4 linked regions of the Homo sapiens genome follow. The protein of the gene in region 4 interacts with the protein of the main gene of each other region in a pairwise test. Each region holds a gene or a part of one and is shown on either strand. Other genes may lie near its edges.

Region 1 (3,027 bases), on a different chromosome or scaffold from region 4:
CCTGGCTTTGTCATTCATCGCGTGGGGACAGGTGCAGCAGAAGAGAGCAGACAGAAGCACAGGATCTCAATCAGGCTCTTGAATCAGACTGCCTGGGTTTGAATCCAGGCCCTACTGACCAGCTGTGTGACCTCAGACAGGCGACTCCGGGTCTCAGCACTCAATTTTCTAATTGGCCAACTGGAGATGACAATGGCCCCTACCTTGAATGGCTGCCAGGAAGATTAAATGAGAAAATACTTAAATGTGAAACACTTAGAATGGCGCCTGGAACACAGACCATTAATACCATCTAACAGATGTTAGTTGTTATCCTTATTTATTACTCATGCTTTCCTTTCTCTTTTTTCTTTTCTCTCTCTCTCTCTCCTTTTTTTTTTTTTTTTTTTTGTTGTTGTTGTTGTTGTTGAGACAGGGTCTCAGTCCGTCGGCCCAGACTGAAGTGCAGTGGCACAATCATAGCTCGCTGCAGCCTCGACCTTCCAGGCTTAAACGATTCTCCCACCTCAGCCTCTCGAGTTGCTGGGACCACAGGTATGCACCACCATGCCCAGCTAATTTTTGTATTTTTTGTAAAGACAGGATTTCACCATGTTGCCCAGGCTGGTCTTGAACTCCTGGGTTCATCTGATCCATCTGCCTTGGCCTCCCAAAGTACTGAGATTACAGGTGTGAACCACCACACCCGGCCAATACTCATGTTTTTCAAGCCTGTAAGAGGAACCTCCTAGCACTGTCCCCACCCCGGCCACCACACTGGTCCCAGCCCCAACAGGTCAGCTTCCTTTGCTGTTCCCGGGCTTCCCTCAGCTCTATCTCAAGCCATGACCTCTGCCTCCATGTCTGCAGCCCCATGAGGCTGGGGCTGCTCTGTCCTGCATATCTCCAGTGCCTGGCAAGGGGCTGGCAAGAGGTAGAGGCTCATTAAATGCCTGTTAAAACCCTAATAGTAATAATAATAATGGTACAGTTGTTACTAAGACTAATCACTACCTTCCAAAGTCTTTCCTCTATGCAAGGCACGGAGCTAAGCACCCTGTAGATCCTGACAACAGCCCTCCCGTGATCCCACAAGAGAGACACGATTCTCTCCAATGTTTAAAAAGGAAAGTAAAAGTCAATGGTTCTAAGTAGCTCACACTGAGTGATTGTACCGGGATTTGGACTCAGGCACCATCCCTTAAACCAGAGGTCAGCAAACTTTTCCCCCTCAGGAACAGATGGTAAATATCTTCAGCTTTGCAAGCCAGACAGTCTCTGTTACAAGCGCTCGACTCCCCCTTGTAGCATGAACACAGCTGTAGATAATACGTCCAGGAATGGGTGTGGCTCTGTGCCAATAAAACTTTATTGTCCAAAAACAGGTGACAGGTTGGTTTGGCTCATAGGCTGTAGTCTGCCACTTCCTGTTTTATTCTACCTTCTGTTCATTTCAGGTCACTGTGCATGGCATCATCCTGGCCCCCTCTAGAGCTCCAATCCTCCAACCAGAGCCAGCTCTTCCCTCAAAATGCTACGGCCTGTGACAATGCTCCAGAAGCCTGGGACCTGCTGCACAGAGTGCTGCCAACATTTATCATCTCCATCTGTTTCTTCGGCCTCCTAGGGAACCTTTTTGTCCTGTTGGTCTTCCTCCTGCCCCGGCGGCAACTGAACGTGGCAGAAATCTACCTGGCCAACCTGGCAGCCTCTGATCTGGTGTTTGTCTTGGGCTTGCCCTTCTGGGCAGAGAATATCTGGAACCAGTTTAACTGGCCTTTCGGAGCCCTCCTCTGCCGTGTCATCAACGGGGTCATCAAGGCCAATTTGTTCATCAGCATCTTCCTGGTGGTGGCCATCAGCCAGGACCGCTACCGCGTGCTGGTGCACCCTATGGCCAGCCGGAGGCAGCAGCGGCGGAGGCAGGCCCGGGTCACCTGCGTGCTCATCTGGGTTGTGGGGGGCCTCTTGAGCATCCCCACATTCCTGCTGCGATCCATCCAAGCCGTCCCAGATCTGAACATCACCGCCTGCATCCTGCTCCTCCCCCATGAGGCCTGGCACTTTGCAAGGATTGTGGAGTTAAATATTCTGGGTTTCCTCCTACCACTGGCTGCGATCGTCTTCTTCAACTACCACATCCTGGCCTCCCTGCGAACGCGGGAGGAGGTCAGCAGGACAAGGTGCGGGGGCCGCAAGGATAGCAAGACCACAGCGCTGATCCTCACGCTCGTGGTTGCCTTCCTGGTCTGCTGGGCCCCTTACCACTTCTTTGCCTTCCTGGAATTCTTATTCCAGGTGCAAGCAGTCCGAGGCTGCTTTTGGGAGGACTTCATTGACCTGGGCCTGCAATTGGCCAACTTCTTTGCCTTCACTAACAGCTCCCTGAATCCAGTAATTTATGTCTTTGTGGGCCGGCTCTTCAGGACCAAGGTCTGGGAACTTTATAAACAATGCACCCCTAAAAGTCTTGCTCCAATATCTTCATCCCATAGGAAAGAAATCTTCCAACTTTTCTGGCGGAATTAAAACAGCATTGAACCAAGAAGCTTGGCTTTCTTATCAATTCTTTGTGACATAATAAATGCTATTGTGATAGGCTAAATGATTACTCCCGTAGATTGGGGGGTACCTAATCCCTGGACTTGATGAATGTTACCAAATTAAGGGTCTTGAGATGGGGAGATGATCCTGAATTATCCAAGTGGGCCCTATATAATCACAAGGGTCCTTATAGGAGGGAGGCAGGAGGCTCAGAGTCAGGAGATGTGACTATGGAAGCAGAGGCCAGAGGAATTCAGGACGGCCACTACGAGCCAAGGATTGCAGGCACCCTCTAGAGGCTGTAAAGGGCAAGGAAATGGCTTCTCCCCTGGAGCCTCCAGAAGGAATGGGTCCTGCCAACTCCCTGTCTTCAGCCCAGGGAAACAGATTTAGGATTTCTGGCCTCCAGAACTGTTAGAGGATACATTTGTGTTTTGTTTTGCTTTGTTTGCTTTGCTTTGCTTTGCTTTTTTGAGATGGGGTCTCGCTCTGTCACCCAGGCTG
Region 2 (3,500 bases), on a different chromosome or scaffold from region 4:
ATGTTAGGCTCTTTCCCACAGTCCTGCTGCTTTGAGCCAGACATCCAGAACTCTCTTCGGAGGGCAGTCAGCCCACAGGTTCTCTGGAAGACGGGATCCTAGGGAAGCATGCTCGGTGAGGAAGAAGAGCCTTGAAGGTATTGGTTCCTCTCTTTCCTGTCCCAGGTCCTGCTCTGCAGGCTCAGAAGTCCGAGTCTGCATCCATGAGTTCTGTGTCCATCAGGTTGGTGCGGGAGTGAATAGGCCCCAGGCCCTGTCGGCGGCCATGAGCCCATGCCACGGGGGCCGGTGCACTGGGCAGAAATGGATCCTGAGGGGGACTGGGCTCTGGGCAGAATGGGTTGGAGACCAGGGTCCACGCTCCCTGTCGGCAAGAGTCCCCAGCTCCCCAGGCACCTGCAGCCACCAGGCATTTCTGCCGGGGCAGCTGAGGCAGTCGAGGAATGGTACTGGGGGCAGGGGCAGGGGGGTGAAGCTCAGGGGGCGGCGCCAGCGGGCACACCTCCTTCTTCCTCTTCCTCCTCTTCTTCTTCCGGCCCAGGCGCTTCTGCAGCTCTGGGGAGATCTCTGCCTCAACCAGCCACAGGTTGGCTTGTTCCTCTGGGGGCACTGACAGGAGGAGAGACAACACGAGCCTGGGGCCCTGGCTCTGTCCATGCCACCCCCGCTCCCCTGGGAGCACTTAACCTGTTAGTTCTGGGGCCCAGGTCTCTAGACTCTTAGAGCCTCAGCCCCACTCTTCAGATCCTCTGGGGCCTTTCCTTCCTCTTCCTCCTCCTCCGACAGCCCCTGTACTCCAGTCCCAGAAGCCCCCAGCCTCTGTGCTCCCCCCACCTTCCTCCAGAAGCTTGAACTCTCATACCTGGAGTTGCCACAGGGGTGACAGAAATATCCTGGGGCAGTATGGCTCCTCTCCGAGCCACCATCTTGGTGACATGCTGGGCCCAGGCAGAGGAGACATCAGCTGAGGGCTCATTGAGGTCAAAGGCCAAGCCCGCTGTGGGAATGGAAGGAAGGAAAGGAGAAGGAATAGTGACTTCCCGGTCCCTGGCAGTGCCTCCCATAGTCAGTGCCATTCATCTTCCCACAGCCAGTCCCTCCTGCTCACCAGAGAAAGCTCACCCTGTAACCACGGTGATCTCTACCCCTTCAGAATCTGAAGAGAAGGGCCTCACGTCCCCAAAGGGCCTAACTGGAGGCCAGAAATCCAGTTCTTGGAACCCTGACTTACTCTTGCCCAGGGAGAGCAACTGGAGAATTTATGAGAAGGGAGAGGGAGGGGAGTCTTCTTGGAACCCAAGCACCGGCAAGCAGACCCAGGGGCAGAAACAGAGAGGGGAGAGCCCCCCAGAGGGTAGGAGGGGCCGGGGGAAGAATGGGTGTGTGAGCGATGGAGGGAGCGCCTTGCTCCTCACAGTCGGTCTTCCAAATAATCTGTGTGCCCCCAGCAGGCTGGGAGAGACTAGCACATGGGCAGCGCGGGGCCAGGCGGCTCCGGTAGAGGAGGGGTGAGGCTCACCCACGGGCCCGTCGTGGGACACAGTGTGCATGCTGAAGGACAGCTCCTGGCCTGGGTTCTGCAGGAGCTCGTGCCGCTTAGAGAAGGCCTTGGCAATCATCTTGCTCTTCTTGATCCGCTTTGGCTCATCGTCACTCTGCCCAGTCAACCTGAGAGCAGAAGGGATAGGGAAGGAGCGTGAAGAAGCTGCCACTTCCCATCAAATCTTGGGAAGGGCCAGCGATGCCATTCTTTCCAGAGAAGGAGGCTCCCAAGGGCCTCAAGTCCTTCAAGGACTCAGGAGTAGAGGCCTTCTCTGCAAAGAAGTGGGGCCAGAATGCAGAGCTCCTGTGTGCCCAGCCCTCCAATCACTCCGCTCTTAAAAGGTGATGGCAGCTGGCTCTGCCCTTGGCCCAGGCCCAGGCCCAGGCATCAGGCCACCCAAGGACAGAAGGTGCCACCAGGGGGCAGCGGTGAACCACTGACCAAGGCTGTGCTAGAGGCAGGACCCGACAAAACCTAAAGATGGGGTCCCAAGGCTGAGGGTGAGGCGGGCAGGGCAGGAGGGGCTGGCTGCCATGCCCACCTGCACCAGGTACGCCTCCAGATGAGCAGCGTGGCCTTGGTCCAGACCCAGGTGCTCATGGCGATGCCAGTTCCAAACATGGCAAACAGGTTGATCTTCTCCACCAGAAGGCTCGGGCGATTCTTGATCTCACAGTCAGGGATGGGCTGCTTGGTGGGCAGCCCGATGGTCACATTGGCCTGACATCTACAGTGAGGGAACGTAGACAGGTGAGGCTTTCCTTTCTTTTCCTCTCTCTTTTTTTGAGATAGGATCTTGCTCTGTCACCCAGGCTAGAGTGCGGTGGCGTGATCACAACCCACTGCAGCTTCCAACTCCTGGGCTCAGGCAATCTCCTGCTTCAGCCTCCCAAGTAGCTGGGACTACAGGTGGGGTTTTCTGAGTCTACTGGGTAGACTCAGACAATCAATCCAAAAACTTTAGAAAGGGCTAAGCTCCACAGCACTGATCTCAACCCTGGGTGCTCATTAGAATCAACTGGGGAGCTTTTAATAGCTACTGATGCCTGGGACCCACCCTAGACAATTAAATTGAATCTCTGGGGCAGAGACTCAGGCATCACTGTGGTTTAAAGCATCCCAGACTGGAAGCCGGAACCTTTACGGAAGAGCCTGAAGCAGTCAGGGCTTGGACTAGCATCCATTTTAGCGACTGTCCTTGTAACAGTGGGTACTGCGCTTCTCTCAGCAGTAGCAATGTCTTACTCTCTCCAATCCATCCTCATTATGACACAAAAAAGCACAGGCAAAAACTAGCCAACATTAGCAGGTCATTAACCTATCACAGAGAGGTAACTAGTCCTGTGCCAGGATCTAAAGCAGGCTCTGCAGGAGAGCACACAGAATTAGAGGGCAACTTAGTGTCAGTCAGAGAAGACGAAGCTGAACTGGCTGCTTAACAGTCACACATGCACCAGCTGGGCAACCAAGGGGGTGGAGAGGGAAGGGCAGAGGTGAGAAGGGATGCGAAGGTTGTTTGCCACGTTTGAGAAACTACGGAGACTGATGCCTTATGCACCCAGACACCATCCATTGAATCTGCTGTCTGCAGCAGGGACCTGGCAAATCCCTGCTGCCCGGTGGGTGGAGGTGGGTGTCTTTATGGCCTTGGCTCCAGCTCCCAGCACTGCCGCCTCCATGCCCCTCACTCACAGCACATAGTCCCGGAAGCTGCGCTCCCACTCAGCCTGGTTGAAGAAGTCGTAGAAGTGGCAGCTGAAGGTAATGAGCACAAAGCCAAAGGCCAGGAAGCCAAAAATGCCTGTGGAGGACAGGGGCAGGACAGGACGTTACCAAGCCCAGTCCCGCAGCAGCAGTGGGGAGGAGAGAGTCTGCCCCACTGGGCCTCAAAGTTCACCCAGCTGGGGCTGGGGTGAACTCATGCTGGGCTCAGTCCAAGAACTGCTTTCTCTAAAAT
Region 3 (2,165 bases), on a different chromosome or scaffold from region 4:
GTTTCCAACCCAGTCTGGCATAGGTAGACCCTCCGGGATGCTTGTCATATTGAATTCCATGATTGAAAATAAATGGATAGTTTTCCAGATTCTATATATGAAGTCACTATATACCACATGTCTTAATCGGTTTTTGTGCTTCTTAACAAACAACCCCTAAAACTCAGTGGCTTATCACAGCAAACACAGACTTCTTGCTCATGTTATATGTGGCTGCAGCTCCCTGTGTCTTCTCATTCACCAGGGCGCACGGGCTGACGGGTGTGATCTGGAATGGGCCTTCCTGTGGCTGAGCAAGAGGCTCCGCTTGGATGAGGCAGATGTCACTTCTGCTCACATTCCAGCAGCAGAGCCAGTGGTGGAGGGCGTGGGGTGTGTGGCCTGTAGGGCGCACTGCAAGTCACACCACAAGGGCAGGTGTGTGTAATCACACAGGGGAAGAAGTGAAAAGTTGTGAACACAACACAATCTTCCACACCACAGTGTAAAAAAACAGCCAGTTGTTTTTAAATCTTTTATCAACATAGTTATAGCATTGATTTATTTTCCAAATCATAGTTGTTAAAAACAGTATTTACATTTCATCACCATCAACTTAACATTTTATGCATTCATTAGGATCATACAAATATATGAAGGTGAAAGTTCTGCTCTGTCCCCACTTCTTTCTGAAACCTTCTTTAGCCATGTGGCCTGAAAGTAGAGCCATAGTCCAGCTTGGGAGTCTAGTTCCCAAGTTGCCTGGTTCTAGAAGCCCAGTGTTTCTTGCTTGCATCAGATCAGAAACACACTGGGCAACATAAGAACATTCTTAACTTGGCTCGACTAAGAGGAAAGTCTTTGCTTACTTCAGGGAGCTTCTCCACCTTCCATTCTTTACCAATAGGGTTTAAAAGCTTTGATTAGAAGCCAACTTGATTTAGGAGTTCCCACTGGCAAAATAGGGAACAATATGAGCATCAAGGACATCTGCGAAGCACTGAAACACTCGAATGTGATTAAACGCATGACTTCATAATGATACAAAACAAAACACAAAAGGCTTTTGGCAGCAAGCCTGAGAGAATGGAGATCCAGCTGAGATGACAGCGATGGAGCGTATACTGTGATTCAAACGACATCATTACTTAGATGCTGCATGCACATAGGCTAATGTGCCCACAGATCACACACTTCCAACTCCTGCCAATCAACAACTATTGGGTTGACTCAGCAGTCTCCCAAACATACCACCTGCTCAAAATTCTTAAGCTCAAAGCTAGAATTATCTCTGTGACTAATACAGCATTTTCACGTTTGACATGATAGTAACTCAAACTAACTCTTTACCACATTTACAAGTTGCAGTTTTCAGCTTTAATTTTATTTTTACTATTTAAAAAAAGTCTGAACTCTATGCCTGTATTCAAAAATGAGGAACTGGAAGGTAGTTTGGAAAATACTGTTTTCCAACCCAGCTGGAGTCTCTCTCCTCTCAGCCTTCCTGCCTGGTAACGTAGACACCAAGATTCACACTGTGAATCACACATCTGTGAAGCCAGACGTGTGATTTCCAAAGCAGAGATCTGTCATTTCTGTCTCTAGGCTCCTTCTTTGTCCTGAAGACTGGCTTCAGGGGCTCTGCCAATTGACTTTCCTTTTCCACGACCATCGAGGAGTCCTTGTGTAGTCACTTTCACATTCTTTCCTGGTCTCACTCCTGGACCTCCACACACTGGTTTTTGGAGTGGGGCAATCCTACAGCCAAGAGCTATGTGAAAAAGGCTGTGGGGAAAAGAGAAGAGTGAGGGGAGTGGCAAGGCAGGGAAAAGCAAGCACAAAACAAACCAGCTCAGATCCAGACAAGAAGCTTTACTGGGTTCTGATGCAGCCTTCCTGGCTCTCTCCACTTAGTTGATTTCGGAAATAGTTCTGCAGTGGTTCCACACGATCCCCGTCCTTTGCTCCTGGTGAAGGAACTCATCATTCTCCACCCCCTTCTCATAATCACTACCTCCTGGAGAGATCAAGCAAGAGCCTATATATATTGCATATACATATATTAGCATATCATAGATAATGCATCTTTTATAAACAAAAATTTTCTGAATTTTTAGACAGGGGGATGTGGCCTAAGAAGCATCTGAACAATGGAGCATGATATTTCATAGATTTCAAATGTAAGG
Region 4 (3,500 bases):
CTATACAGATATAAATACTAAACAAATTATCAGAGCAGAGACAAATGCCCCATGCAGGAAATTCCAAATAATTCATGTCAATACTTGGCCCTCAGCGAGGTGTTACATAACTCCCCACTCCTTATGTGTGGACCATGCATAGTGACTTCCTTCCCAAGAGTAAGTATGGAAAGTGGGGTAAAACGTATCTTTACAGAAGAGAAACCTGAGAAACACTACCTCAGCCAGGTGATCAAGGTCAATGTCAACAATGATAAGTCATGTTGAAAGTGTGCATTCTTGATATGATGTGATGAGAACAGCACTTTACCTGTGGTCTTCCCCCAAATCCACAGCCCCAGTCTAATCATGAGAAAAACATCAAACAAACCCCAATTGAGGGACATTCTACAAAGACCTGACCAATACTCCTCAAAACTGTCAAGCTCATCAAAAACAAGGAAAGTTTGAGAAACTCACAGCCAAGAAGAGCCTAAGGAGACAGGACGACTAAATGTAACATTACCACATTATATCATCCTGGATCCTGGATGGGATCCTGGAACAGAAAAAGGACATTAGGTAAAAACTTAGAAAATCTGAACAAAGTACAGACTTTAATTGATAACAATGTACTAATATTGGTTCAATAATTGTGAAAACCGTACCATACTGATATAAGATGCTAATAGGGAAAGCTGGGCATAGGGCATATGGAAACTCTCTACTGTCTTCTCAGTGTTTCTGAAAAATTAAAAATGTTTCAGCTGGGTGTGCTGGCGTGTGCCTGTGGTCCCAGCTACTTGGGAGGTCAGTGGGGGAATGATCGCTTGAGCCAAGGAGTTTGACGCCAGCCTGGGTAGCAACATAGCAGGAACCCATCTTAGGGGGAAAAAAGTTCCAAAAAGTAAAGTCTATTTGAAAGTACAGATTTATTTAAAAAACATTTAAAGCCAAGGAAAGGTTAAGAAGAAAGCCTGAAGATGGAGGGTTGCAGTGAGCCGAGACTATGTGGCTGCACTCCAGCCTGGGTGCAGAGTGAGGCCCTGTCTCAAAAAAAAAAAAAAAAAAGCCTGTAGAACACACACCAAACTTGAGGAGCAGTTACAGCTCTGCAAAGAGATAGGGAGGAAAGGGAAATCAAGTTTTTCTTTAGAAAGTTACTGTTTGAATCTAGCACATGAAGAATGTATTACTATTTAATACAAAATGCTTAATTTTAAATATCACATTTAAGCATCGAATGATAAAATGAAATCGGCCAGGCGCAGTGGCTCACACCTGTAATCCCAGCACTTTGGGAGATGGAGGCGGGTGGATCACGAGGTCAAGAGATCGAGACCATCTTGGCCAACATGGTGAAACCCCCTCTGCTAAAAATAGAAAAAATTAGCTGGGCGTGATAGCGGGCGCCTGTAGTCCCAGCTACTCAGGAGACTGAGGCAGGAGAATCACTTGAGCCCAGGAGGCGGAGGTTGCAGTGAGCTGAGATTTCGCCACTGCACTCCAGCCTGGCGACAGAGTGAGACTCCGTCTCAAAAAAAAAAAAAAAGCAAAAAAAGAAAATGAAATCATTATTAAACAGGCACCACTCCCTAAACCCTTATATCTCTATTCATAAATTGTCCAGTCTCCAGATAGACCTCCAAATTGTATTCAAGCCTTTGATTATGGTAAGTACTAATTAATATTGCTGAGATAAACTAATTTAAAAGACAAAAACAGAAAAATGGTCAAAGATTATGCTAAATTGCTCGGGGAGGGGGATAAGAAATATATTATACATATGGGCCGGGCACGGTGGCTCATGCCTGTAATCCCAGCACTTTGGGAGGCAGAGATGGGCAGATCACTTAAGGCCAGGAGTTCGAGACCAGCCTGGGCAACGTGGTGAAACCCCATCTCTACTAAAAATACAAAAATTAGCCAGGCGTGGTGGCATGCACCTGTAACACCAGCTACTTGGGAAGCTGAGGCACGAGAATCTCTTGAACCCAGGAGGCGGAGATTGCAGTGAGCAGAGCTCTCACCACTGCACTACAGCCTAGGTGACAGAACCAGACCCTGTCTCAAAAATAAATAAATAAATAAATAAAAAAGAAGAGGAGAGAAGAGAAAAGAAAAATACATATGAAGGTAGCCTGGGCATGGTGGCTCACACCTGTAATCTCTGTAAGCCAAGGTGGGTAGATCATTTGAAGTCAGGAGTTCGAGACTAGCCTGGCCAACATGGTGAAACCCCACCTCTACTAAAAATACAAAAATTAGCCGGGCCTGCTGGCGGGCACCTGTAGTCCCAGCTACTCCAGAGGCTGAGGCAGGAGAATGGCTTCAAACTGGAAGGCAGGGGTTGCAGTGTGCCAAGATTGCGCCACTGCACTCCAGCCTGGGGAACAGAGCAAGACTCTGTTGAAAGAAAGAAAGAAAGAGAGAGAGAGAGAGAGAGAAAGAAGGAAGGAAGGAAGGAAGGAAGGAAATAAATAAATAAATATACATATGAAGGGAACTGCATTAATAAGAAAATATTTCACTAGGAATGCTCTTAAACTTGATCAGTGCTAGTATTTAGGACATTTAATATAAATTATGTTATTCAGAAAAATCATGAGTAAGCCTTATTGTAACAGCAGGATGTGCTAAGTGATATCAAGTTACACTTGCTTTACTACCACTCTTGGTCAAGTTAACAAGACATATCATACAGTCATCCCTCAGTATCCACTGGGAATTGGTTCCAGGACTCCCCACAGATACCAAAATGGGAGGATGCACAAGCCTCTGACATAAAATGGTATAGTATTTACACATAACCTACCTCATGTACTTTAAATCATCTTTACTTATAACACTTAATACAATGTAAATGCTATGTAAAATAGCTGTTATAGTGTATATTTTACTTGCACTATTATTTATTATTGTATGGTTATTTTCCCCTATTTTCAATCTGCAGTTGGTTGAATCTGCGAATGTAGAACCTGTGGATACCCAGAGCCTACTCTAACTCATACCCCCACCTAGCCAACCACTAGAAGCAATTACCACTGGAAAGTATGTCAAGCCCAAAAAATTTCATACATGATGTTTGCCAGTTGCCTAGCTTATTGGCAACAATGACTTGAAAAAAAGATAAACCATCATGCCAATTTTCAGTATGAATGGAACAGAAGTATTAAAGTTGCTTTATCTAAATTGTCCATTATTATAAGAATATAGGCCGGGCGCAGTGGCTCACACCTGTAATCCCAGCACTTTGGGAGACCGAGGCGGGCAGATCACTTGAGGTCAGGAGTTCAAGACCAGCCTGGCCAACATGGTGAAACCCCATCTCTACGAAAAATACAAAAAATTAGCTGGGCGTGGTGGTGGGCACCTGTAATCCCAGCTACTCAGGAGGCTGAGGCAGGAGAATCGCTTGAACCTGGGAGGCGGAGGTTGCAGTGAGCCGAGATCGCGCCATTGCCTTCCAGCCTGAGCAAGAAGAAAGACACTCCATCTCAAAACAAACAAACAAAAAAGAA

The links. The genes of interacting proteins can lie anywhere in the genome.
Region 1: the proteins of NDFIP1 (region 4) and BDKRB1 interact in a two-hybrid assay, tested with the Homo sapiens proteins (one large-scale study listed by BioGRID and IntAct).
Region 2: the proteins of NDFIP1 (region 4) and SMO interact in a two-hybrid assay, tested with the Homo sapiens proteins (one large-scale study listed by BioGRID and IntAct).
Region 3: the proteins of NDFIP1 (region 4) and CCR2 interact in a two-hybrid assay, tested with the Homo sapiens proteins (one large-scale study listed by BioGRID and IntAct).

What each region holds. Positions count from the first base shown.
Region 1 is NC_000014.9:96,262,237-96,265,263, forward strand, and holds the end of BDKRB1 (B1 bradykinin receptor), read left to right. Parts: exon of another isoform or gene 1-375; intron 376-415; 5' UTR 416-534; intron 535-1,436; 5' UTR 1,437-1,446; coding exon 1,447-2,508; 3' UTR 2,509-2,527; downstream 2,528-3,027. UniProt on the Homo sapiens protein: This is a receptor for bradykinin. Could be a factor in chronic pain and inflammation.
Region 2 is NC_000007.14:129,209,133-129,212,632, reverse strand, and holds part of SMO (protein smoothened precursor), read right to left. Parts: intron 3,345-3,500; coding exon 3,236-3,344; intron 2,271-3,235; coding exon 2,085-2,270; intron 1,669-2,084; coding exon 1,520-1,668; intron 998-1,519; coding exon 863-997; intron 610-862; coding exon 182-609; 3' UTR 1-181. UniProt on the Homo sapiens protein: G protein-coupled receptor which associates with the patched protein (PTCH) to transduce hedgehog protein signaling. Binding of sonic hedgehog (SHH) to its receptor patched prevents inhibition of smoothened (SMO) by patched.
Region 3 is NC_000003.12:46,359,276-46,361,440, reverse strand, and holds the end of CCR2 (C-C chemokine receptor type 2), read right to left. Parts: 3' UTR 1,765-2,165; coding exon of another isoform or gene 1,581-1,764; 3' UTR 501-1,580; downstream 1-500. UniProt on the Homo sapiens protein: Key functional receptor for CCL2 but can also bind CCL7, and CCL12. Also transduces signaling mediated by CCL13.
Region 4 is NC_000005.10:142,115,279-142,118,778, reverse strand, and holds part of NDFIP1 (NEDD4 family-interacting protein 1), read right to left. Parts: intron 1-3,500. UniProt on the Homo sapiens protein: Activates HECT domain-containing E3 ubiquitin-protein ligases, including NEDD4 and ITCH, and consequently modulates the stability of their targets. As a result, controls many cellular processes.